7 linked regions of the Homo sapiens genome follow. The protein of the gene in region 7 interacts with the protein of the main gene of each other region in a biochemical or structural test. Each region holds a gene or a part of one and is shown on either strand. Other genes may lie near its edges.

Region 1 (3,500 bases), on a different chromosome or scaffold from region 7:
TATTTGTCAGTGTGCTTGGGTGCCTCTCTGACTTTATTCAAGGTATTGACCATTCAGTTCTTAGTTTGTAGAAGAAATGGCAACGTTGGAAACAATAACCTATTTTAATTCTTTAATTATATTATAGTTGTACCTCAGTCCATTTTTCCCTCTTTTGTTTTATCTTAGGTCAACAGGACATACTGCTGTGGCACCTACCGAGCAGGTCCTATGCGGCAGATAAGTCTCGTTGGAGCAGTAGATGAAGAAGTTGGTGATTATTTCCCAGAGTTCCTTGATATGTTAGAAGAATCACCATTTCTGAAAGTGAGTGTTAATTAAGATTATTAAAGTTTTGATCTTTACTTAAGTGGGCACTTTATATGTTGAAGAGTATTTAGCTAATATTGCCTATTGAAATTAAATTTATCCAGTGTTTTGCACAGAAATGTTTAGATAGAATAATATTAGTACAAAGTACTTAAATTCAATTATTCTTTTTAATATAAATTACTATGTAAATAGCATTTATTTCTTTATATACAGTTGTAAAAAAGCCTTCTTAGAACTTTTATTTGGGTGGGAGGATTAACTTATAAATCATTGAAACAATTTTTTAATGTGACTAATCCGTCTGATTTCTAGATGACTTTGCCCTGGGGTACACTTTCTAGCCTCCGACTCCAGTGTAGGTCCCAGAGTGATGATGGGCCTATAATGTGGGTAAGGCCAGGAGAACAGATGATCCCTACAGCAGATATGCCAAAGTCACCCTTCAAAAGACGACGGTAAATATTTCTTTTTCTCAAATAAGCAAAACTACTTTTTTTTAGTTGGTTGCTTATAAAAATGAGCACAGTTTGAAAACCATTTGTCTTGGGCTCCCTTAAGTAAATGTTTTAGTTGTCGGTTCCTCTTTTCAGTCCAATCATCACAGTTATCACAGTGAGGCATTTTTCTAAAACACAAATTTAATTTTTACTTATTTTTTAAAAACCTGTGCCCTAACTGCCTGCAGGATAAAAGATCAAACCCCTTAGTGTGGTTTACATTAATAATCAGGTCAACTGTACCTCTTCTAGATGTATCTGTGTTTAGTCTTCTCCGGCCATACCGAATTCACTTTCCAAACCATAGTCTATCATAACTCTTTGCTTTTGCACTATTTTTTTTTTTTTTTTTTTTTTGAGATAGGGTCTCACTCTGTTGCCCAGAGCTAGAGTGCAGTGGTACAATCATAGCTCACTGTATTCTTGAACTTCTGGTCTCAGGAGAGCCTCCCAAGTAACTGTGGCTATAGGTGTGTACCACCATGCCCATCTGATTAAAAAAATTGTTTTGTGTATTTTATTTTTGTAGAGATGGGGTCTCACCATATTGCCCAGGTTGGCTTTGAACTCCTGGCCTCAAATGATCCTCCTGCCTCAGCCTCCCAAAGTGCTGGGGTTACCGTCCCACAGCAAACTTAATACATTTTCAAAACTTAGCTTGAGCTGGGCACAGTGGCATATGCCTTTAGTCCTAGCTACCTGGTAGGCTGAAGTAGGAGGATCAGTTGAGCCCAGGACTCCACGACAAGATCCTGACTCAAACCCAAACCAAAACCAAACAAAACTTAACTTGGACGTCACCTCCTTTGTGAAGTTTTTCTTTCCTTCCTTAGGTAATTAATTGTTCCCTACAATGTTCTGTTCATTAAAGTTTTGTTTACATGTTTTTATTTTCTACTAACATTTGAGGTGTGCTTTGGGAAGACAGGGACTATTTTATTCATCTTTGTCCTCATGACATATACTAGGTAACCAGTATTTGCTACATGAAACCAATAATGTTCTATAGGACCGAGCCTCAGTAATTCATATTGTGCTAACATGTTTTGTGTTTCAGACTTTGAAGACAAATGTAGATTAACTCACTCTCTAGTACTTTGAAAAATCTAATTTAATGAGACTGAAAATGATCTATACCTGCTTAGACTACGAAAATAGCAATTCAAAATAAGTGCCCAGAAGTGAGTTTTAATGGACTAATCTAAACCTTAACTTAAGGCTCATAGGAGAATGATACTTGAGCTAAGTATGGAATAATCTTAGGTACTTGAAATGTATGAAAATACTTTGAAAACATTATGTACGATGCAGGGTGGTGGCATGGTAAAAACCCAGGAGTCATTTGAAAGTTCTGCACATTGCTAGATTATAGCAGTTTTTGTTGCAGGATGATGACGAATCTTGAAATCTTATTAAATTGTTAAATACTATATACATTTTTTGTTCTGTAATCTTTCCTCAAAAAATGACCATCATTTGTTTCCTGATTTTTATAAACTTAAGAAAAAAGTAATAGGAAAGAGTAAAAAGAGGGCAGGTGCAGTGGCTCACACCTGTAATCCCAGAACTTTGGGAGGCTGAGGCAGGCAGATTGCTTGAGTCCAGGAGTTCAAGACCAGCCTGGGCAACATGACAAAACCCTGTCTCTAGTAAAAATACAAAAATTAGTGTGGTGGCACGCTCCTGTAATCCTAGTTACTGAGGTGGTTGAGGCATGAGAATCGCTTGAACTCAGGAGGCCGAGGTCGCAGTGAGCTGAGATGGTGCTTCTGCACTCCAGCCTGGACGACAGAGTAAGACTCATCTCAAAAAGAAAAAAAAAAAGAAGAGTAGAAAGAAGGCAGGCTGGGCATGGTGGCTCACACCTGTAATCCCAGCACTTTGGGAGGCCAAGGCAGGCGGATCACCTGAGGTCAGGAGTTCGAGACCATCCTGGTCAACATGGTGAAACCCCATCTCTACTAAAAATACAAAAATTAGCTGGGCATGGTGGCAGCCGCCTGTTATCCCAGCTACTCGGGAGGCTGAGGCAGGAGAATTGCTTGAACCTGGGAGGCGAAGGTTGCAGTGAGCCGAGATTGTGCCACTCCACTCAAGCCTGGGGGACAAGAGCAAGACTTCATCTCCAAAAAAAAAAAAAAGGTAGCCACCATTTAGGCATATTAACCTTTCAAATTATATATAGCCATAAATAATCTTTTTACAAAATCCATTCTTTGTGTGATGTTTACTTTAAAACTTGGGAATTTTTACTGTATGGTTGTATCAAGATTTATTTAACCAATTCTTGGTTTTTGTTTTTGTTTTTTCTTTGAGACAGGGTCTTACTCTGTCACCTAGGCTGGAGTGCAGTGGCATGATCAGGGCTCACTGTAGCCCATCTCCCAGGCTCAAGTGATCCTCCCACCTCAGCCCCACCAAGTATCTGGGACTACAGGTGCCTGCCACCATGCCTGGCTAGTTGTTTTTTGTTGTTGTTGTTGTTGTTTTTGAGACAGAGTCTTGCTCTGTCACCCAGGCTGGAGTGCGGTGGTGCGATCTCGGCTCACTGCAAGCCCCTCCTCCCGGGTTCACACCATTCTCCTGCTTCAGCCTCCCAAGTAGCTGGGACTACAGCCTCCCGCTATGATGCCCGGCTAATTTTTTTTTTTATTTTTAGTAGAGATGGGGTTTCAACGTGTTAGCCAGGAT
Region 2 (3,953 bases), on a different chromosome or scaffold from region 7:
ACTCTGGAGCGAACTCTGGGGAGAGAATGGGGCGTGTGTGCACATGCTCAGTGGTTTGCAGCTGCCAGAGTGACCCTAGGATGGGACAGCCACCGGGACTGTGGCAGCACCCACATGGAGTGATGGTCAGGGAGAGATCAAGAGATATGACTCCGGAGACCCTAAGTCCTCTAGAGACCCCAAGGGGAGACCCAAAGGGGAGCGGCCGAGGAACCCTGAGACAGAGACATGGAGGGCTAAGAGATAATGAGCAAAAAGAGACCTAGAGAGGAGAGACAAAGAGACCAAGAGAGACAAGAGATAAACGGAGACAGACCAAGAGTCAAAATAAAGGCGGAGACCGAGACGTAGAGGCTGGCAGAGGGACCCATACAGAGGCCCCCAGAACGACGAATCTCAGAAATAAATGACCCATAGAGATACTCAGAGATACATCCCAAAAGAGACAGAGACCCAGAGGGGACAGCCGGACACAGACACACAAGAGAGTGAGAGACAAAGGTGCAAACAGGGCGACTCCAGGCCGGGCGCCGTGGCTCACGCTTGTAACCCCAGCAATTCGGGAGGCCAAGGAGGGCAGATCACTTGAGGTCGGGAGTACCAGACCTGCCTGGCCAACATGGTGAAACCCCTTCTCAACTAAAAAAGAAAAAAGAAAAAAAATTAGCTGGGCTTGGTGGCGCCTGTAATTCCAGCTACTAGGGAGGCTGAGGCACGAGAATCGCTTGATCCCGGGAGGTGGAGGTTGTTGCAGTGAGCCGAGATCGCGCCACTGCACTCCAGCCCGGGCGACAGAGGGAAACTGTGTCTCAAAAAAAAAAAAAAAAAAAAAGACAGAAAGAAAGAAGAAAGAGAAAAGAAAAGAGGCGACTGCAACTGAAGCCTGATTCTGACGAAACACACGCACACGGAAACTTGGAGAGACGCAGGACAGGATCCCGGCGGCAGAAGGACGGAGAGAAAGGGGACCCCGGGACGGGAAAGGCGCAGAGCAGGCGCGGGCGGCGGCGGCGGCGGGGCAGGGCAGGGCGGGCGTCCCGGCAGAGGGCGCGCGGTCGCCCTGTCGCCCTCCGCCCCGCCGGGGTCACAGTGCCCCCTCCCTCGCGCCCTAGCCGCCCTGCCGGGCTATTTTTACGCGCGGACACCGGACACCGGACACCGGGCTGGGGCGGCGGCGGCGGCGGCCGAGGCGGCCGAGGCGGGGCCGCACCGGGGCCGGGCGTCGGGGCCACACGTCGGTTCGCGGGTCGCCGGGGCTGCGCGCGCCATGGAGCCGCGGTGCCCGCCGCCGTGCGGCTGCTGCGAGCGGCTGGTGCTCAACGTGGCCGGGCTGCGCTTCGAGACGCGGGCGCGCACGCTGGGCCGCTTCCCGGACACTCTGCTAGGGGACCCAGCGCGCCGCGGCCGCTTCTACGACGACGCGCGCCGCGAGTATTTCTTCGACCGGCACCGGCCCAGCTTCGACGCCGTGCTCTACTACTACCAGTCCGGTGGGCGGCTGCGGCGGCCGGCGCACGTGCCGCTCGACGTCTTCCTGGAAGAGGTGGCCTTCTACGGGCTGGGCGCGGCGGCCCTGGCACGCCTGCGCGAGGACGAGGGCTGCCCGGTGCCGCCCGAGCGCCCCCTGCCCCGCCGCGCCTTCGCCCGCCAGCTGTGGCTGCTTTTCGAGTTTCCCGAGAGCTCTCAGGCCGCGCGCGTGCTCGCCGTAGTCTCCGTGCTGGTCATCCTCGTCTCCATCGTCGTCTTCTGCCTCGAGACGCTGCCTGACTTCCGCGACGACCGCGACGGCACGGGGCTTGCTGCTGCAGCCGCAGCCGGCCCGGTGAGAGGCGGGGCGTGGGTGGAGACGGGCGGGGTTTGGGAGGAGATGGGCGGGGTCCAGAGGGGACCTGGCCAATCATAAGGCGGGGCCAGGGGCTGCGAGGGGTGGGCCAGCCGAAGACAGGGTGGGCGGGAGGCGGGGCCTGAGGATCCGGGTCGGAGGACCTGCCCCATCAGAAGGTGGGGTTGAGGTCAGTGAGAAACCCGGCGTGAAGAGGGCAGGGCCCTTGATGCAAGGGGTAGGAGGACAGGAACCTTAAAAATCACAGCTGAGGGGGGCCAAGGAGAGCCTGAAAACTCCGGAGTCTGTGCGGCTGGGTGGTGAAAGCCAGGCCCTGAATAACTCCAGCTGAGGGTGCTGGAGCCCGAGGGGCGACAGTAGGAGGAATCTATGGAAAGAAAGCCAGGTTGAGGGGCCAGAGGAGGGGGCCTAGGGCTCGGCTTGCAGAGAAGGTCTTTTTTTTTTTATTTCCTGTGAGACAGAGTCTTGCTCTGTCGCCCAGGCTGGAGTGCAATGGCGCTATCTCGGCTCACTGCAAGGTCTGCCTCCCGGGTTCAAGCGATTCTCCTGCCTTAGCCTCCCAAGTAGCTGGGATTACAGGTGCAGGCCACCACGCCCGGCTAATTTTTGTATTTTTAGTAGAGATGGGGTTTCACCGTGTTGGCCAGGATGGTCTCTATTTCCTGACCTCGTGATCCGCCCGCCTCGGCTTCCCAAAGTGCTGGGATTACAGACGTGAGCCACCGCGCCCAGCCGCATTATACTCTGGGCTGGGACTGTGGAGGGCAAGGAAAAGCTAGGCACAAGGTGGTGGGGCCAGGGCAGGGATGCTCCCCATCTAGAAAATCAACACTGGAGGCGGGACTTTGAGAGAGAAGAGGTTGCACCCTACTCAAACATGAGTTCCCACGCATGAAGGGGCAGGGACCACGTCTCCAGCCACCCACCAGGTCAGGCAACCAGAAAGTCAGCGGCCCAGGGATGATCCCTGGGATCCTGGGAGGAAGTCTGGGATAACCAGGTCACGGAGGGCCTTGGCGCAGCGGCTACTGACCAATGTGTAAAGAGGAGCTGGGTATTTAAATGATGATTAAGGCTGTCCCCGTGTCCTAGCCCCAGCCTGACCCTCCCTGAACACTTTCCTCCCTGCAGTTCCCCGCTCCGCTGAATGGCTCCAGCCAAATGCCTGGAAATCCACCCCGCCTGCCCTTCAATGACCCGTTCTTCGTGGTGGAGACGCTGTGTATTTGTTGGTTCTCCTTTGAGCTGCTGGTACGCCTCCTGGTCTGTCCAAGCAAGGCTATCTTCTTCAAGAACGTGATGAACCTCATCGATTTTGTGGCTATCCTTCCCTACTTTGTGGCACTGGGCACCGAGCTGGCCCGGCAGCGAGGGGTGGGCCAGCAGGCCATGTCACTGGCCATCCTGAGAGTCATCCGATTGGTGCGTGTCTTCCGCATCTTCAAGCTGTCCCGGCACTCAAAGGGCCTGCAAATCTTGGGCCAGACGCTTCGGGCCTCCATGCGTGAGCTGGGCCTCCTCATCTTTTTCCTCTTCATCGGTGTGGTCCTCTTTTCCAGCGCCGTCTACTTTGCCGAAGTTGACCGGGTGGACTCCCATTTCACTAGCATCCCTGAGTCCTTCTGGTGGGCGGTAGTCACCATGACTACAGTTGGCTATGGAGACATGGCACCCGTCACTGTGGGTGGCAAGATAGTGGGCTCTCTGTGTGCCATTGCGGGCGTGCTGACTATTTCCCTGCCAGTGCCCGTCATTGTCTCCAATTTCAGCTACTTTTATCACCGGGAGACAGAGGGCGAAGAGGCTGGGATGTTCAGCCATGTGGACATGCAGCCTTGTGGCCCACTGGAGGGCAAGGCCAATGGGGGGCTGGTGGACGGGGAGGTACCTGAGCTACCACCTCCACTCTGGGCACCCCCAGGGAAACACCTGGTCACCGAAGTGTGAGGAACAGTTGAGGTCTGCAGGACCTCACACCTCCCTAGAGGGAGGGAGGGAGGGCAGGGTGGAGGGCAAGGCTGGGGGGAGGGGATTGGGTTTAGGAAGAGCTAGGTTAAGTCGTAACGAGTGGGGAAACACTGAGTCTTGTTGGGTCTTGGGTTGTGTGGTT
Region 3 (3,500 bases), on a different chromosome or scaffold from region 7:
TCTAACTGTAAGGCTTACCACTTTACCAAATTTAGCCCAAATGTTTGCAAACACTTTAGAAAAAGCATTACTTGACTGTGATGTCAAGCCAGGGACATGATGGAGCCAGGGACATGAGTTTGCCATATCTTTGCCCCCTCTCCACTCTGCTCATTTTTGGCCCTTTGCTCATCCCTTCTACTGTTTCCAGGGAAGGCATGTGTGAATGGGATGCAGGTCATCCATGCTTTAAACTTAATTCATACTCCTAATTTCACATCATTGATTATATTGTTACAAATGGGTCAACCCCCATATACCCTCTGCGCTTATTGTGCTCAAGCCTAGACCAAGCTCTTCAATTCTAAAGGCAGCCCATTCCTGCCTTTAGAAACAGGGTCTGGGCAGGGGAAAAGGATGCAGACTTAGAAGCTTTGCCTTGTGTTCACTTCCTGTTTCTGCCATCTTCTATCCACGAGGCCTTGGGCATGTCCTTCCCTCACCCCCAGCCTCAGTTTTCAACTTTTTAAACCTAAAGCTAATACATATTTTCCTGATTTTTGTAAAGATTAAGCTGAAGAGCCAATATGCAGCTCAATAAATAGTAGTTATTTTTATTTCTGGCACTGTCCTCAGAGTACTGCATGCTGTATTGACTGTGTAGAATACAATGAGATTGAATCTTGAGGTATCAGTTATACAGAGCTGGTAATATACAAGTATACAGTCCTGCTACCACCACCATTTACCTCATTAATCTATCTGTAGTTTATACAATACAACTTGTTGCATTGAATTACATTCTTCTATAGCTGTAAGTTCCAAAGAGACATGATGATACATTTTTGTCAGACGAATGAAAAGTTAAGTGAGATTTTGCAAGAACAGAGATTGCACTTAGGAAGAATTTAATAACTGGCAATGATTATTATAATTATTTATTTATGTATATATTTTGAGGTGAGATCTTGCTCTGTTGCCCACGCTGGAGTGCAGTGGCATGATCACCGTGGCTTTGAATTTCTGGGTTCAAGTGATGATCCTTCTGTCTCAGCCTCCTGCATTTCTAGGATTACAGGTGCAAGCCACTGTACCCAGTGATAATTATGATTATTAACTAAAGTATTATAGGTATCTGCTTTTTGCCTTTCTGTAAACACTTTAAGGCTTACTTCTCTGCTAAAGAGTGATACTTTTCTGGGTTCTAGGTCAAAATTAAACTCTCTGGGAGAATCATTGCAAACTTACATTTCTCCCTCCAGGCATTTCATCCAGCTCCTCTGCTTCAGGTCTCTCTTCCCCAGTTTCCTCGTTAAGCACAAGAAAATACTTTACACAGCTGTTTCTGATGAGAAGTTAGGCATTAGGTCCTGGCTCGTTGTTACTCCTTCCAGCTCCTTTAGGAGCCCCACAGGTGTCATCTCGGGCTGTTTTATCTCCTTGCATTGTTGCCTTTAGCTTTTGAGTTTCTTTCAAGCCTTTTCCTCCTGGTAATCTTCCTGCCCATTCTTACACTCTTTAAATATTTTTTTAAAAATATTTTATTTTTAGAGATGGATGGAGTTTCACTTTGTTGCCCAGGATGGAGTGCAGTGGCATGATCACAGTTCACTGCAGCTTCTAACTCCAGCTCCAGTGATTTTCCTGCCACAGCCTCCTGAGTAGCTGGGATTACTGGCATACACCACTGTGCCCAGCTAGTTTTAAAAAATTTTGTTACTGTAGAGATGGGATCTCATTTTGTTGCCCAGGCTGGTCTTGAACTCCTGGCCTCAAGCAATCCTCCCACCTCAGCCTCCCAAAGTGATGGGATTACAGGGGTAAGTCACCACTCCCAGCTCCTGCCCATTCCTTATCTAAGTCATCAAATAGATATTTGTATTTTGGGGTGCCAATTTGTAGTGTAGCCACTCCTGCTGCATGAGGACTGTCTGCTTTTAAGTCCACAGTCTTCTTGAAGGCCACAGATTTTCAGTGATTTCAAGTACCTCCTTTTCTGCAAACTCAATCCCAAGAAGTGTTTTTTTCTGGCTTTTGGTGAAATCCTCTTCCCTCAACTCAGATAGGCAGAACTGGGGTATACTTCTGTGGTGGCTGCTGGGAACTATCCCCCAGTTCCCATGGTGGTTCAGTCCAGCTTGGTTTTTCACAGCACAATTGGGAGACAGGACACAGAGCAGCACCGACTTCCCCCTCCCCCAGCCCCCTATGCTTGTTGTGTGCCATGCTGGGTTTTGTAGGAGATGCAAGACGGGCACATCAGAGTCCTCTGGCCACAATCTTACCACCGACAGAGCTTACCAATAGATGGTGTTGTGACCAACAGTTTCCAAGAGCCCTCAGTGCATGGCTACTGGCCCTGACATTCACATTTGCTGTCCTCCAGCTGGGATTTGAGGAAAGTCATTTCTTCCAGCTTCCCTAAAATCCTTCTCAGAGAGCCAAGGACCTCTCCTTTCGTGGGTCTGAAACATCTCAGGGTTCCATGAGTGGCAACTGGCTTCTCTCTCTAAGAGCTCTTTGTCTGGCCTGACACGGAATAAAAGTACCTAGCATCACCAATTCTCCCACCTCTCTTCCTCCCTCTCTTCCTCTCTACTTTCTTCCTTCTCACCTTCCCTCCCTCTCTCCCTCACCCACTGTTCCTTTCTTCCTCCTTACTTTTTGAAAAAAATGTGCTTTCCGCCCCCACCCCCATGGCCATATTTACATTCCTCTGTTATTAAATGTTAGGGAATTTTTACATTGCAGAAATTTACCTTAAACCCCTCCTCTTTCCTGATTCCAGGCCATCCCCACCAAAATGTCTAGCTCTGAAATTACACGCTATATATTATCTTGTGTCAGATGATAGTTTACACATATAATTCTATCATATTTGTTTAAATATAAATTAATGGTATATCTTCTTTTGCAATCTCATTGGTTTTGACTATTTGATGTTCAGGGAATTATCTGTCTGGCAGAACTGAAATTAGTGTGGTTGATGTGTTGCAGCCCAGGAAGTTACTACTCAAATGCTCCCTGTGGTAGAGACAGTAGGTGCTCACCCAATAGCTATGTGCTCCTACATCTCCCAGCTCCTGGGGCCATATGGCTAGTTGTGGCCAACGCACTGTGAGTGACATGTGTTCCTTTCAGATTGAAGCAGTTAAGAACTGTTGTGCCTCCTTCAAGCCTTTCTTCTCTTGCCCCAGCAACTTTGAAGAGTGTAGCTACAAGGAGGCTGCTCTTCCCACAGTGGACTTTATGTGGGCAGGAAGTAAACTTTTGTTGTGTCAAGCCATTGAGATGTTTAGGTTTGTTTGTTGCAGCAGCAGACATTAACTACTCTGACTAATAGAGTTCCTGAACTCTAGTCTCTGCAACACAGTAGGCATGCAAGAGATATTTGTTAAATACATGATTGGATGAACAAATGAATCTGTTCCAGGCAGGAGGAGGACCAGGTCCTTTTCTATATATGGAGCCATAATAACAAAAAATTTATAGTACAAAAATGATTTACTGTCCTTTTTGGG
Region 4 (3,500 bases), on a different chromosome or scaffold from region 7:
CTGCGCCTCCGCCCACAGTGGCACCGCCCCTCGCCCCCGTAGCTGAGCAGGAGTCTGAGTCCTGCAGGAAGGCGCGGCGGCCACAGCAGCCCCAGGGAGGCCGTGAGAGGACGCGTGAGGGCCCGGGGCAGACCACCCCAGGCTCTTCAACACAACAGATGAGAACGAAGTCCTTGTTCCAGGCGACTCACTGAGGAAATGCTCCGATAGACTCGGAGAGGGCTGGACACAGAGTGGACCCCACTCTCTTGGCTTCTCTCGCGGATCTGGGTTTGCAACAATGGCTCGTCGGAACTGTGTAGAGCGTTCAGGTTTATTTTAGACCCTGGGTCAATGTCTTGGAGGAAAAGCCATTGACTCTCGTGGAAGAATCCTGGGGACAAGAATCTGGGGCGTCGCTCACGCCCTGTTAAAACTTCAGTTCTTCTACCCACATGGGGCATTCTCCACCTCCCAGCAGCAGATAACTCACTGGATAACCTGATGTCGGGATTTGGCCGGGAAAACATGCTTTTCTGTGACTTTGGAGCTGTTTGCACGTGGCAGGAAGTGGGCGCCTACTAAACCAGCAAACGTGGGACAACCAGCCTGGCACCGCCCGAGCCACGCCAGAGCCCCCATGCATCGTCTCCTGATGGCAAGCACTCCAGTAGCCAGAACACCAAGGAGGGACGTGCGAATGTCCACAGTTGGCCGGGCTGTCCCTGGGCTGATCTCTGGGGGAAGCAGGAGCCCCAGCTGGAGCTCGGACCGGACACTCACCCCACGACTGTTGCAGGAGGCAACTGACGCTTCGGGCTCTGGGGCACTCAGGAGAATCTGGACAGAGGCCCACCCAGCTCACCTCTTTACAGAGGGGCAGAGTGAGGGTGGGGCTCTCCTGGGCCCTGACTCCCCCGAAAACCCTCAGGGGCCTCTGTCCAGGGTGGGCCTCAGAGCCAAGCCTGAACCACAGGGCGCTGTCTCTCTGTGGGGTCCTGGTGTCCAGGAAGAAATGGGCAGATTCTAAACACTCCCCGGAAAGCAAAGTGTCTGCTGTCACTCCAGCTCTGCGGCCCCACAGCGACGCCCGCTCCTCTCCCAGGTGCCTTCGCCCTCGCACAGGTCCAGGCTCCTCGTCCCGGGATGCAGGGCCCCTCCGGTGCCCGCCTGGCCAGTGCTGTTCGAACCCTGGGGCAGGGGCCCTATTTCGGGCTTTGACTGTCAGCCAGTCCCTTGGCTCCCCAGAGCACCCTCTGTCCACGGTGGACACTCTCTAGCCAGCCAGGGCCTCGTCTTGGCTGGACGGACAAGAAGTGTGGCCTCAGGAGGGAAGCAGGAGCTCTCGGGCCCGCTGGCTGCCTGCATCCCGACACAGGTGACACTGCCTCTGCCCATGGCCCTTCCTGCACAGGAGGGTCCCTCTCCACTTCCCGCCTCACTCAGCCGGAGCCATCCCAGAGGCCCGGCCGGCTGCCTCCTCCTGCCCCGATGCCCAGGGCAGCATCCATGGCGTGGTCAGAGTGGCTGGAGCCTGGCACAGGTGCAGCGATCACCAGGGGGCTGGGGAGGGGCCAGGCGGCTGCAGCCCTCACCCCTGCTGGCACCCACCCACAGGGTTCTTACCGGAACATGGCACCCACCCTGCTCGCCTGCCTGAGGTTCATAACTAAACCCTACACAGTGGGGCCCTGAAGCACAGACATGTTTCCCACAGTCTGGAGGCTGGAAGCCTGAGACAGAGCTGAGTGCAGGCTGGTGCCCCGAGGCCCCCTCCTGGGCCTGTGCACGCATGTTTCTGGGCTGATGCCCCTGAAGCCCCCTCCCCAGCCTGTGCACCCCTCTGTGCTTCCCCGGTGAGCTCACCTCACTCACCTGATGAAGAAAAGATGAAGCTCCATCAGCTCCAAGCCTTTCCAGCTGGGTCGATTTTCCCCCAGTCTACTCTGCCACAGAGAACACACATTCCCCTTTGAACTCTGACCCTGAACCCTTTTCTTGGGCCGAGAAGCAGGTGGAGTTTGCGGCCTCCGGTCCAGGTCTGTTGGTGCCGAACAGTCTCCACTCTTTCTCCACCTCTCGCAGAAGCTCGTACAGAATCCTCCCGGAAGATGTTGACAAGCAGGGTTTCGATGAGTGTGGGGCTCCCAGTGCAGGGCTGGGGCCATCCCATGGTTTCCCTGCCTCTCTGTAAGGCCCATCCAGATCCCACCTGGCCACCCGCAGGCCACGGGAAGAGAGGAGGCTGGAGGCAGGCATCAGTCGGCCGATACATGGCCCCAGGAGCCAGCCTCAGAGCCACACAAGGATGCCTTTGGCCAGCAGAGCCAGTGGAGGGCGAGGACAGACAGCACTCCGTGGCCACGTGGGGCCCCTCCCGTGCACTCCCTGAGCATCCACAGACGCAGCCTGACCGTACCTCCCCAGGCAGCCCCCCTTCCCTGAGACCCCACACGAAAATGCCTGGAGCGGCTGCAGGGGAAGCCGAGCCCCAAGGGTAGGCTCAGGCGACGGCGCCGCCCACACAGACCCACCAGCCAGTCACACACGTCTCCTTTGCTTTATCCTCAGGATCTGAAGACAGTGCTCTCCCTGCCCCGCTACCCAGGGGAGTTCCTGCACCCCGTGGTGTACGCGTGCACGGCCGTCATGCTGCTCTGCCTCCTGGCCTCCTTCGTCACCTACATCGTGCACCAGAGGTGAGCCTGGCATGGGCAAGGGCGCCCCCTGTGCCCAAGAAACCTGCTTTTACCTTCAAAGGCAAGTCCCTGAAGGGCAATGCCACTGCCCCCTCATGTAGCAAGAAGTCCTTGAAGGTACAACTCAGGTCACCAGCTAGCTCAGACCCGCTCAGCAGCCTGGTGCCCATCACACAGCCGAAGGGTGGATGGAGCTCAGGGAAGCCGCGCCTGTCCACTCAGGCCTCCGTCAGGGTCTTCTCCACGGCATCCCCCGTGTCCTTAACTGGGCAAAATAAGTTCTTCCAGAAATAGGTGTGGTGTCCGTCCAGGCACCCTGAGGAGCTCAGTTCCCCCGGGCAGTCACTATGGCCTGCAGAGCCTGGGAGAGGCACCAAGAACATGAGGGTGTCCAGCCGCAGTCAGGGTGGGCATGCCCACAGCCAGTCATGGGCGGGGGTTCGGCTATGTCTGAGGCCAAGGTCGCCTCGGTCACGGACAGAGCTTAGAGGCGCCCAGGGCCACAGTCTCATCAGAGACTCGGGCACACACGAGGCTGTGATCACAGGAAGAGGCTTGGGCGGTTCCGAAACTGTCATCTTGGTCTGTTTGGGCTGCTGCAGCAGAACACGGGGGCCTCGATGGTTTATCGACAGGAGAAACTGACTTCTCAGTTCTGGAGGCCGAGGTCCCAGATCAAGGCACCCATGACGCTGTGTCTGGTGCGTCTGGAGAGGGCCAGCTCCAGGCTCACAGACGGCACCCACTGCCTGTGTCCCTGCCTGTGTCCCTGCATGTGGAGGGTGAGGCACTCTGGGGGCCTCTTTCTCAAGGTCCCTGATC
Region 5 (3,500 bases), on a different chromosome or scaffold from region 7:
ATCAAAAATTGAAATGTTGAATTTCTCTTGGTCTTTAGGAGGGGCTGGATTCTCATTGTATTTCAGAAGCACACATTATCAGATTAATCTGTACAAGTTGAGAGAAAGAGAAATACAAAAGCAAGCCAGCATTTTGGATTAGCTAGCTAACATTCGTGCTTAAAACTAATTGCATCATTAAGAACATTTCTGCTTTTCTTAGCAACCATATACATACTTGGAATATAGTATACAGATGCTGCTCATTACTGTTATGACCAAAAGGCATGTGGCTGTAGATGATTTCACTTGTTGCAAATTATCTTCTTATCCATTAGCATCTCATAATTAATGGACAAGGATCTGAACTGCAGTGATACTGGGTGGCTTCTATTCCATACAGTGGGCAGTCTGCACAAAACTCATCTACCATGATTTTTACCTTTTCATGGTGGTTAAAACTAAGGATGTAGCCATCTAGCAAAAAGCCAGAATTTTCTCATAGAATATGTGTGTATGTGTGTGTGTGTGTGTTGGAAATTCCTTTATGCTTGAGGCAGGCATGGAGTGATTGGATAGAACTCTAGCATGTAGCTCCAACCCTGGTTTTGTTTAATAAAGGCCAAGATATCCTAACATAACCCTTGGATCTCTAATTTAATGGCCTGGATTACCTTTCAAAGGTTTAACGCCCTGGAACCCTCTGAAAAACCAAGAAAATGTATCCTATTGGGCACTGCCTGTCCTTTTCACTTGCAGGCAAGCTGAGTCTTTGGTCCTTAAAGGAGAGTCTTTACTAATGACATCAAAATGTCAGCCAATGAGCATCTTGCAAGGCTGCTTAGAGGCCCTGGAGGGAATATCTGGTTCATATAGATTTGGTTCTTGAACTTTTCTGGTTGCTCTGGCTCAGGGTTTCTCAGCCTTGGCACTATTGACATTTGAAGCTGAATGATTCTTTGCTACAGAGCTGTCCTGGGTATTGCGGGGTATTTAGCAGCACCCCTGGCCTCTTCCCACTAGATGCGAGTAGCACTCCTCCAGACCAGTGTGACAACAAACAATGTCTCTAGACACTGCTGAATATCCTCTGGGGATCAAAATCGCCCTAACTGAGAACTGCTGCGTTAGTGAGGTTGCCCATAGTACCCCATGCTGGCCATCAAGAGAGTGCCCACAGAAGTGTTTACAGCTGGCCTAAACTTTGTTGGCGCCTTCGTTTGATTCCAAAACCACGAGGATCCCTCTGGAGTCATGTACCCCTTACAGTCTGTTCAAATTTTCTATTTCTCTTCCATTGAATCCATATGAAATCCTAAGAATTCACCTTCAGGTTTAGCCATTGATGGATCTCATCCATTTCCCACTTTGTTCTTTCAGAATCTTGTCTGCTTTTAACGTAAATTGTCCATACAACAGCCCCTGCTCCCAAGACTCTCACAAATGCCTGCAGCTTTGTTACTTGTGCTCGTTCAAAGCTTACAAATGACCATTTTATGGCCTAAACCTGGGAAGTGTTAGGCAAAGTCAGCTACGATCTTGTTAGCATTTCCTCACTACGTGTTTCAGGATTGCTTTAACAAAATCTGATTCCTGGACATGCTGGGTAGATCATCTATTGAGTAGAAACATGGAGGAGACAAAGGGTAAATGGTACGTGGTAACACAGTTGGAACGTGTTTCTCAACTTGTGTTCTTAGCAGCCAAGCTCTGCCCCTGACTCTGATCACAGGCAAAGGAATAAAGTCTCATTTCAATCCTGAGCTTCTCCTAATTCTTGTGGATCAGAGCTGGGATTATGTCCATAGCTAACCTGGAGTTTGCCAACTTTTGCAACCCATAATTAAAATGATTTCTATATATCACTGGCGTCTATACTTTTCTTCATTCATGGCACAAGCATTTCTTGAGCATACGCATTTCTGTAGGTACTAGGAATGCAGAGAGGCTAAAGAGCTCATAGTCTAATGAGGGGACAGGTGAGTTAACTGATAGGGGGAATACAGAAGATCAGCAGAATGAGGGAACAGAGAGGGGCGGGTGATGATTCACTGTGCTTTGGGGGGCCTTGAAAGGCTTCACTGTCCAGAGAACATTTAAACTTGATCTTCAAAGATGACTGCCATTTCTAAGGAGAAGAAGGAAAGTGATGCCTTCATGAGGCAGAAAAGAGTGGACAGGCAAAGGCGCAGAGGTGTTGGTGATTCTACAGCTCCCAAAAAAGAAGACTTAGAGGGCCCTAAGCGCAATAATTTGTTTGGAGGAGCAGGTTAGGGCACCTGCAGTTTGATACACGTACAACCACATGGCTTTTCATGTAATAAAAGCCTGACCGAATAAAGTCAGAAATCAGACCTGTTGGGTTTTTTTTTTTTTTTTTTTTTTTTTTTTTTTTTTTTTTTTTTTTTTTTGAGAGAGAGAGAGTCTCACCCTGTTGCCCAGGCTAGAGTGCGGTGGCACGATCTCAGCTCAATGCAACCTCCCATGTTCAAGCGATTCTCCTGCCTCAGCCTCCCCAGTAGCTGCGACTACAGGCATGCACCAGTAGAGACTGGGTTTCACTATGTTGGCCAGGCTGGTCTTGAACTCCTGGCCTCAAGCCATCTGCCTGCCTCACCCTCCCAAAGTGCTAGGATTACAGGCATGAGCCACCACACCCAGCCTCTACTGGGGGGATAATTATGGGTATGAACAAAAATGAGAGACTGGTCAAAGCACATTACTCTCCAAGGAGCCCCTGGGCATCACAACTGCAGAGAGTGAAGGCATATTGAGTGTTGCCCAAGTGAAGTTTGGGGTGCCTGGAGAAGAGGATGTATCTTGCTGTGTGCAGGATAATAGTGTTCAACAGGTAGGATAGTGGTAATTACGAAGCGTCTCACTGTGCTCATCTCAGGAGTTTGGACTTGTGTAGAGCAGTGATTCTTAACCTGGAGGTGACTTTGTCCCCAGGGGACATTTGGCAGTGTCTGAAGACACAACTGGAAGTGGTGGTGTATTAATTTCCTATCACTGCTGTAATGACCACAAACTTAGTGGCTTCAAGCAACACAAATTTATTGTCTTACAGTTCTGGACCTCAGAAATCCCAACAGGTTTCACTGGGCTAACTTCAAGGTGTTGGCCTGACTGTGTTCCTTCTGAAGGCTCTAGGATCTGTTGTGGTTCCTTTTCCAGTGGCCCCCTTCCTTCATTTTCAAAGCCAGCCAAGTTGCATCTCATCCACTCTTCTTGTGTGGTCATTTCTCTCTCTCGCTCTTTTCGGGACTCTTGTGATTACATTGGGCTCACCTGGATAATCCAGGATAATCTCATTATTTTAATGTCAGCTGATTAGTGACTTTTAATTCCACCTGAAACCTTAAGTTCCCTTTGCTATGAGGTATTCACATGTTTTAGGGATTGGGGCGTGGGCATTTTTGGTGGTATATTATTCTGTCTACCACAGGGGAGTTCCTACCGGCATCTAGTGGGAGGCCAGGGATGCTTCTTTTAAATACCCTGCAGTGCACAGCCCCACA
Region 6 (3,500 bases), on a different chromosome or scaffold from region 7:
CTGGTGAGGGAAAATACCTTTGGTGTATGACCCCTCACTCCCACTCCAGGGTAAAGGGAACATTTTCGGACCTTAGAGGTGGAACTGTCTTCCTGGGAACCATTCTCCACTCCCACCTCAGCTGCAATCCCAGGCAGCAGTGCAGCTATCACTCAGATCATGGACACAGCACCGTGGGCATGGATATGCCATGCTGGAGCCCTTAGATGCCCTCTAGCCACTCTGGAGCATCTTCCGATGGACAGTGGGGGAATCTGAAGGGGCTCGCTTGGTGCTATGGTCTTTCAGAGGCTCTGTAGTGCTCTGTGGGTGGACCCTGGGGGGGCCTGATCTCATTTGAGCTGATTTTCCATTACGCCTGAAGAGTTTCTAGGGGGCTGCCTCTCACTGGCAGAGTAGAAACACCCACTGGAGCCACCACACACATCCACCTGGCTTCTTAGACACCGTCAAGGAATGGTGTCTTCCTCAGTACCCCACAGCTCCCACACTGTCATCCCCCAGCCAAGGGCCATCCCTAGAAAAACTGGTTTACTGTTCCTAAGGAAACCATTGTCTATAGCCCTTAGCCTTGTGGTTTAGGCAAGAGGCCAGGTCAGGTGCCCTAGAGTGAGGCAGGGGCTTCAGCCAAAGTTGTGATCGCAGCTTCTGAGGCAGTTCCTCAGTGGAGTCAGAGTCCGCTGCCACCTGAGCTTTCCACCAGATCTTCTTTCCTTTCCTTGTGCTTTCCTCAAGCTGCAGGCTTGATCCCAGCCCACAAATATGAGAGAATTCTGGAAAGTGCCCTGAGAAATGGGTTCTGGGTTTTTTTTTCATTTTTATTTTTTTAAATGTCCCAGGCTGCCTTCCTGTCCTCCCATCCTGCATCCTGCTTTCTGTTCCCTGGATACCGTAGGATGGTTTTATTTCAGTTCATGCACAAATTAGTCTGGACACTGTGGAGTCATAACAAGAGTGGGATGGAGGTTCCAGGGCCAATCAGTTTCTTTGGAGGGAAGCTTGAGAAGTAGGTTAGAGCAATGCCCACAAAAGCCACTGCTTCTCCTTCCCATCCCCAGCAATGAGCTAAGAGCCAACCTCAGCCAGAGAGAGGGTCTTTGATCACAGAGGGTCAGTCAGTGGGATGTGATTAGTGGGTTTGGGGATGGAGTCCCAGGTAAACCAGAGGGCAAAGGGATCCTCTGAGTCCTGGCTTAAGGGAATGGGGTTTCAAGTTGAGGGTTGGGGACTTAGGGCAGGGGAGCAGCAAGGTGAGGAAAACAGAAAGGCTGGCATGGCGAGCATCCTTGGCAATTCAACCTGCATGCTGTTACACTAGCCCCCATTTCTGCCTTTGCTCAATCCAATGGCCAAAGTCAGTCTATCCTCAGCAGCACCTTCTGACACGATCCAGTGGTAGTGTCCCTCACCTGTGGCCCTCGGGGTGCTGTCCACTGTTTTTCACAGACCCAGCCACCCCCCAGCTCTGGCCCCTGGTTCTTCACACATACCCTGTCAGGCTGTAGGAATTGAACTCACTCTTGACTTTGGGAGGTTGACCAGGCCTTGGAGAGCTCCTTGTGGCAAGAGGTTGGGCTTGGTAGGCATCGTAGTAGTTGGAGCGATTTCTCTGGGATGAGCAGGAAAAGCAGAGGATGATTCCAGCTATCAGGGAGAACAGGGAAGAAATAATGCCCAAGTAAAGAGCCTCTCCAATCTCAAATTTCATGCTGTCAGGCACCAGTGGTGAGTAGAAGTCCCGTAGGATCCCATGAAGATTCCAGGCAACAGGAATGAATCCCAGGAGGCCTCCAAGGATGAAAAAGACTCCACCTGCTACCGCCACTCTGTCTTTGGCTCGGGATTCCTGGCAGAAGACTGTGCATCTCATGCCCACCACAGAGATAATGCAGGCCAGGGAGGAGATTGCACTGGATGTCACCATCATGGCCTGGGCAGCCTGGATGTCAGCGGGCAGGCCCAGAAGGGTGCTATAGATGTCACACTGGGTGATGCCTGTGCTGTGTGTGGCACATTCCATCCAGAGGCCCTTGGAGAAGCCAACTGCTGTCACAATGCTGGCACCGACATAAGAACTTGTTTTCCAGCTGGGGAGCAGCATGGCAACCAGTGTGCCCAAAAGCCCCAGAAGGCCTAGGATGTAGCCCACAAGTTGGAGGCCAAGAGAGGCCATGGCAGACCTCTCAGTAGAAGCGTCTTCAGGGACTGCTCCCTTGTCTTCAGGCTGAAGCTCTTGCTCCTTGAACACCTCTAATCCCTCATTTCAGAGTCTCTCTGCCAGGCTGACTTCTCTCCTCCTTACAAGTGTCTGTGGGTGGCCACAAGCAGCCTCAAGAAGGCATCTAGAAGACCTAAAAAAAATCCATAAACCAGATTAAATATTGACCAGAAGCTTATGAGAAACCAGAAAACGCTGGATGCCTTTTGACCTTTGTTATCTTTAGAAATAACACATGAGAAAGGAAAAAAAAAACAACTTTGAACGTGGAGCCAAAATGTCATCGCCTCCTGCGTAGGCACATGCCTTAGGTTGGCAGCTGGACAAAGCCAGGAGCCAGACAGGTGGCTGCTTTCCGGGAAGGTGATGATGGCAGTGGTGGTTGTGGTGGCTGTGTTAACTCAAGTGCTAGTCTCCAAGGCCTGCTGTTTAATACATTGCCAAGCAACAGTGCCATAGGGCCCCTCAATTGCAGACTGAGGCCAAACTGCAGACTACATCAGGAGGAACAGATCCTAGAATGTAGTCTTGGACTCCAGTTTGTTAGAGGCCTCTTGAATCTCCAGGGGCCTAGAGAGTAGTGGCCTAGCCCTGGATCATTCTGCCCATGGTGAAAATCTACTCCAGGGTAGATGGGGGTGGGCAGCAAAGCCTTCTGTCCATACTCTGAGAGTTCAGATCCTCCCAGCCATGCCCAAATCCCCCTCTGCAGCCTAGTCTAAGGCCTCCTGCATGTATAACATGCCCAGACATTTCCTGTCCAGTCTCCTAATAGATGCTCCCATCATCAGCCTCTTGGATGATGAGGGAGCACTCTGGAACAAGGGTTCCAGGACTGAGAGGGGGCCCTGAAATTCCCTGGGCCATCTGTTAGGGGGGACAAGAGTCTGCCACAGAGGAAAGGGAAACTGCTCTAGAATATAGGGCTTTGCATGAGGCAGGTATCTGAGTCAATGCTTTGGAATCTCAGAGCCATATAAGATTTTGCCGTGTTCAAGGAGCCCTCGGTGTTGCCAAGATTCAGGACACTAAGGGTCAAGGGCACACCTCCCCATTCTCTACAAGACCCTCTGATCCACTAATTTTTCTTTCTTTCTTTTTGAGACAGGTTCTCACTTTGGCACCCAGGCTGGAGTGCAGTGGCATGATCTCGGCTCATTGCAGCCTCGACCTCCTGGGCTCAAGTGATCCTCCTGCCTCAGCCCCACAAGTAGCTGGGACTACAGGAGCGCATCACCACACCTGGCTAGTTTGTGTGTGTGTGTGTGTGTGTGTGTGTGTG
Region 7 (3,500 bases):
TCATTAAACTAGATGTAAGATTGCCATTATTGGAGTTATTAGTATACAGGTTTCCATAAACAGTAATAATGCAGTGGAATTTCTACAATGTAGACTTTATAACTGAATTAATTCCCAAAAATATGGTTGATAATTTCAGATAATTACAATCTTTTGAGGTCTAAAGATTCAGTAGTGTTAATGAACCATTCTCTAAAATAGAAACAAGCCCACTGATGAAATGTATTAGTAAAAAAACTTAAACAAATCTGTTATATTCAAAGAAATATAAATAAAAACATTTGTAACAATACTGGGCTAGTAGCAAAAAATAAGTGTACACTTACATTTCAGCTAAAAAGCCCAGAAGTGGGAGAGTCAAAGAACACTCAGTGGGCTGCAGAAAAGGACTATCTGCCCTTCCTGGTCCTGACCACCAAAGTGTCAAGATGTCTGGGAGGATGAACCTGGGAAATGAGCTGTAAGAGTCGCTCTCTGCAAAATCAAGTCAGGAGCTAGGATGTAAATAATACAAGGGGTCCTACAAGTTGTGCCAGCCTGTGCAGCTAAAGTACTAATATCATAAAATGCAGCTAGGATAACTAAATAGCTAGCTATGACAGGATCAGAAATCTGATTTTATATGAGCTGGATTAGTTATGTTCCTGTATTCGTCTATTACATCTAAGTATTTGGTAAAAAAAACACTGTTTGAAAGCTCAGTCTGTCTCAGCCATGCCTAGGGGTAATGAAGGAAAGGTTTTAGGCTTGGTGTTAATTATTTTCAGGAATAATACACCATGAAAAGCAGCATACAAGCGGGAGTGGAAATCAAACCCAAGAATCCCTAGTAGGGTCAATCCTGGCTGCCTTTGTAGACTCCCATAGCCCCAAGTCTAGAGATTTCTTTTCAACAACTAAAAATCCTAACCAAGTTTTTCTTTTAATAAAGGAGATGGCTATTCCCAACAGCATCTTATATTCAAATTCACTCTTTTATTGACTCAGCAAATATTTTCTGAGCACTTACTACAAGCTATGAGAAATCTGTATCATAATCTGTACCATTAGGGTGGTTGCAATTACCTTAGATCATGCCTACATACGTAAAATGTTCAAACAATTCTCTGTAACTCATCACGTGCCAAGTGATGAAGAGAAAAGTGATGAATGCCAATAATAACTAATGTAGGAGGAATCAGTATGGGGGAGAATGGCTGAACAAAAGCTTTAAGGATGAAGGTGAACAAACTGGCTCATGAGATGAGGACAGGCTGCAATGTGGGAATAAGGTGTTTGCAGGGAAGGAAGAAGACTGCTATGTCTGGCTCTTCCACTAGATTGTATATTCCACGAGGACAGGTCAGTATTTTGCTCTGAAATGTACCACCAGCAACTAGTATAGTGCCTAGAATGTTGTGAGAAATGAATGAGCTGGTGTGCCTGAAATGAAGAATTGAGATTAACAAGACAGGTTGTAGAAGAGACCGTGGAGGACCCTGACTATTAGATTAATCAGTCTGGACTTGACCTCCTAGTTGAACCTTTGCAAGGCAAGCAGGGTTACTGATGTATTAACCTGGCAGTGATTGTTTCAGATTTAAGGGAGGAGAGTTGGGAGGCAGAAGTATATGATGGGGTATTCTACTAAATTAGATATGAAGAAGAGAAGTCCTAGACTCAAGAAGTGGCAGGAAAATGGAAGTAGGGGGTAGATATCAACAGGTCATGGTGAAGGACCGAACCACAAATCCAAGGAGAGAGAGGAGTCCCTGCGCTTGGGTTGACAGGAGACATTTTTTCTTGTTCATGAATATTTCCTCTCTCTCCTAGAAGTTATCCGTTTTTAAGCTTCAATTATTATCACCTTTGTATGATGAAAATGGTCCAGGCCGGTATTAACATCAACTCCGGGATTGTAGAACTCTTACCATCCTCCTCCCCTCATCTCAACTTGCCCTCTAATAAAATATCTTGTCCCATGCTAGTTATTTCTGGAGAATACCTGTTTCTTCTTAAAGATCATCTTCTGAAAGGGAAAACAGTAAGGGGAGCGAAGGGGATTATTGAAAATGCAGAGTTAGAGTGTTTGCTGAGGAGAGTGCATTAGGGAGTTGATAGGAGATGACTGCAAGATTTCTGAACTCTATCTTATAATCTGTGGTATAAATTATGAGTGCTGCATGGTTCCTTCTTTTCTAGATTTTAGTAGTCTGTATAGAAAAGGATAAATCCAACAATGAAGGTAATGAATGGGAAAACTGGGTATAAAATAATACCAATGAGATGATAATTTCAACATGGATGAAGGTGACCCTTGAACAGTCATTCAAGAAGTCCAAGCAGGAAGAGGCTAGTCAGCCCAAGGAAGAGTCTAGCTAGCTCAGCAAGCCTGAGATCATGTGCCAAGCCACATCGCATGCAGGAATGAAAATTAAGATAGGAAGAAAAAATACTCTGTGTATATGGGAAAATACCACAAATTACACATAAATTCTGATGTTTTGCATATAGAAACAGTAAAACTAATCTATATATAATTTAGGTTCCAAAACAGCACAATTTTCTAAGGTTTAAGTGTTAAGAATGGAACAAAAAGGCACAAGTTAACAGAATAATTAAAACTGATACCTGAAGAATCTGGTCTCCAGCAAGAAGTCTCCCGTCTCTGGCAATGACCCCATCCCGATAGACCTCCTGGATGACAATGTTAATCAAAGGTGTTTCGTTGCCACCCACAATGCTGATTCCTAACTGAATGTAAGGATTGGACCGATGAATTTCAATCGTGGTGATTTCTCCTTCTGGTAAACTAAGTGGCTGTTGTGTGGCTGCCAAGTTAAAAATGAGACAGACAAAAACAGATGTTAAAAAAATAAACAAACCCAACAATTTATATTCTGATTATCTTCAGGTAAGTATGTCACATTAATACATGATTAACAGCTAAGCAGTATCACTGGATAAGAAACAAAATGACAAAATATCTGTTGTTAAGATTATCTAAAAATTTTCTCTACTAAAACTGATCAGTAAATAATAAATAGCTACTATGTATCAGATCACTAGGGACGACACAGTGATCTGATTAAGAAATATGAAAAGAAAGTCATTCTGTCCTCATTGATGAGAGAAAATTTGGACCACGAAACAACTGTACATAATGAGAGGCAGTACAAAGGAAACACTAGCTCTGTGGCATAGAAACAGCACAGGTGTTGAGAGAGTAGCCACATCAAGCTCGTAAGAAGAGGTGGGTCTTGAACGGAGACGTAGGAAATGAAGAAGGCGCATAGTTGCGGCAAGGAAAATTCAAATTTGTAGTAGAGCTTGGAAAAAGAAAATCATTTTTAAAAGGAAATATCAAGGGCCCACTACCATGATATGCCCAAGATCCATGACTACGGGCCTTCTGTTAACTTCCTAGTGGGTAACAGAGCAGTGGCTGGTACCAGAGGTGTATAACGGTGAGATGCATGGTCTTGGAGTCAAATACAAACCCAGTCATTTACTGGTTGTAT

What was found.
Region 1: the proteins of LNX2 (region 7) and RSBN1 interact in a test that uses a peptide from one of them, tested with the Homo sapiens proteins (one large-scale study listed by IntAct).
Region 2: the proteins of LNX2 (region 7) and KCNA7 interact in a test that uses a peptide from one of them, tested with the Homo sapiens proteins (one large-scale study listed by IntAct).
Region 3: the proteins of LNX2 (region 7) and CLDN18 interact in a test that uses a peptide from one of them, tested with the Homo sapiens proteins (one large-scale study listed by IntAct).
Region 4: the proteins of LNX2 (region 7) and ADGRA1 interact in a test that uses a peptide from one of them, tested with the Homo sapiens proteins (one large-scale study listed by IntAct).
Region 5: the proteins of LNX2 (region 7) and ARHGAP6 interact in a test that uses a peptide from one of them, tested with the Homo sapiens proteins (one large-scale study listed by IntAct).
Region 6: the proteins of LNX2 (region 7) and CLDN2 interact in a test that uses a peptide from one of them, tested with the Homo sapiens proteins (one large-scale study listed by IntAct).

Annotation. Positions count from the first base shown.
Region 1 is NC_000001.11:113,774,477-113,777,976, reverse strand, and holds part of RSBN1 (lysine-specific demethylase 9), read left to right. Parts: exon of another isoform or gene 1-157; intron 158-168; coding exon 169-306; intron 307-624; coding exon 625-767; intron 768-3,500. UniProt on the Homo sapiens protein: Histone demethylase that specifically demethylates dimethylated 'Lys-20' of histone H4 (H4K20me2), thereby modulating chromosome architecture.
Region 2 is NC_000019.10:49,069,900-49,073,852, reverse strand, and holds the start of KCNA7 (potassium voltage-gated channel subfamily A member 7), read left to right. Parts: upstream 1-1,153; 5' UTR 1,154-1,267; coding exon 1,268-1,822; intron 1,823-2,974; coding exon 2,975-3,790; 3' UTR 3,791-3,953. UniProt on the Homo sapiens protein: Mediates the voltage-dependent potassium ion permeability of excitable membranes.
Region 3 is NC_000003.12:138,013,165-138,016,664, reverse strand, and holds part of CLDN18 (claudin-18), read right to left. Parts: intron 1-3,500. UniProt on the Homo sapiens protein: Involved in alveolar fluid homeostasis via regulation of alveolar epithelial tight junction composition and therefore ion transport and solute permeability, potentially via downstream regulation of the actin cytoskeleton organization and beta-2-adrenergic signaling.
Region 4 is NC_000010.11:133,094,424-133,097,923, forward strand, and holds part of ADGRA1 (adhesion G protein-coupled receptor A1), read left to right. Parts: intron 1-2,550; coding exon 2,551-2,678; intron 2,679-3,500.
Region 5 is NC_000023.11:11,659,421-11,662,920, reverse strand, and holds part of ARHGAP6 (rho GTPase-activating protein 6), read left to right. Parts: intron 1-3,500.
Region 6 is NC_000023.11:106,926,902-106,930,401, reverse strand, and holds part of CLDN2 (claudin-2), read right to left. Parts: intron 2,352-3,500; 5' UTR 2,174-2,351; coding exon 1,481-2,173; 3' UTR 1-1,480. UniProt on the Homo sapiens protein: Forms paracellular channels: polymerizes in tight junction strands with cation- and water-selective channels through the strands, conveying epithelial permeability in a process known as paracellular tight junction permeability.
Region 7 is NC_000013.11:27,565,030-27,568,529, forward strand, and holds part of LNX2 (ligand of Numb protein X 2), read right to left. Parts: intron 2,811-3,500; coding exon 2,611-2,810; intron 1-2,610.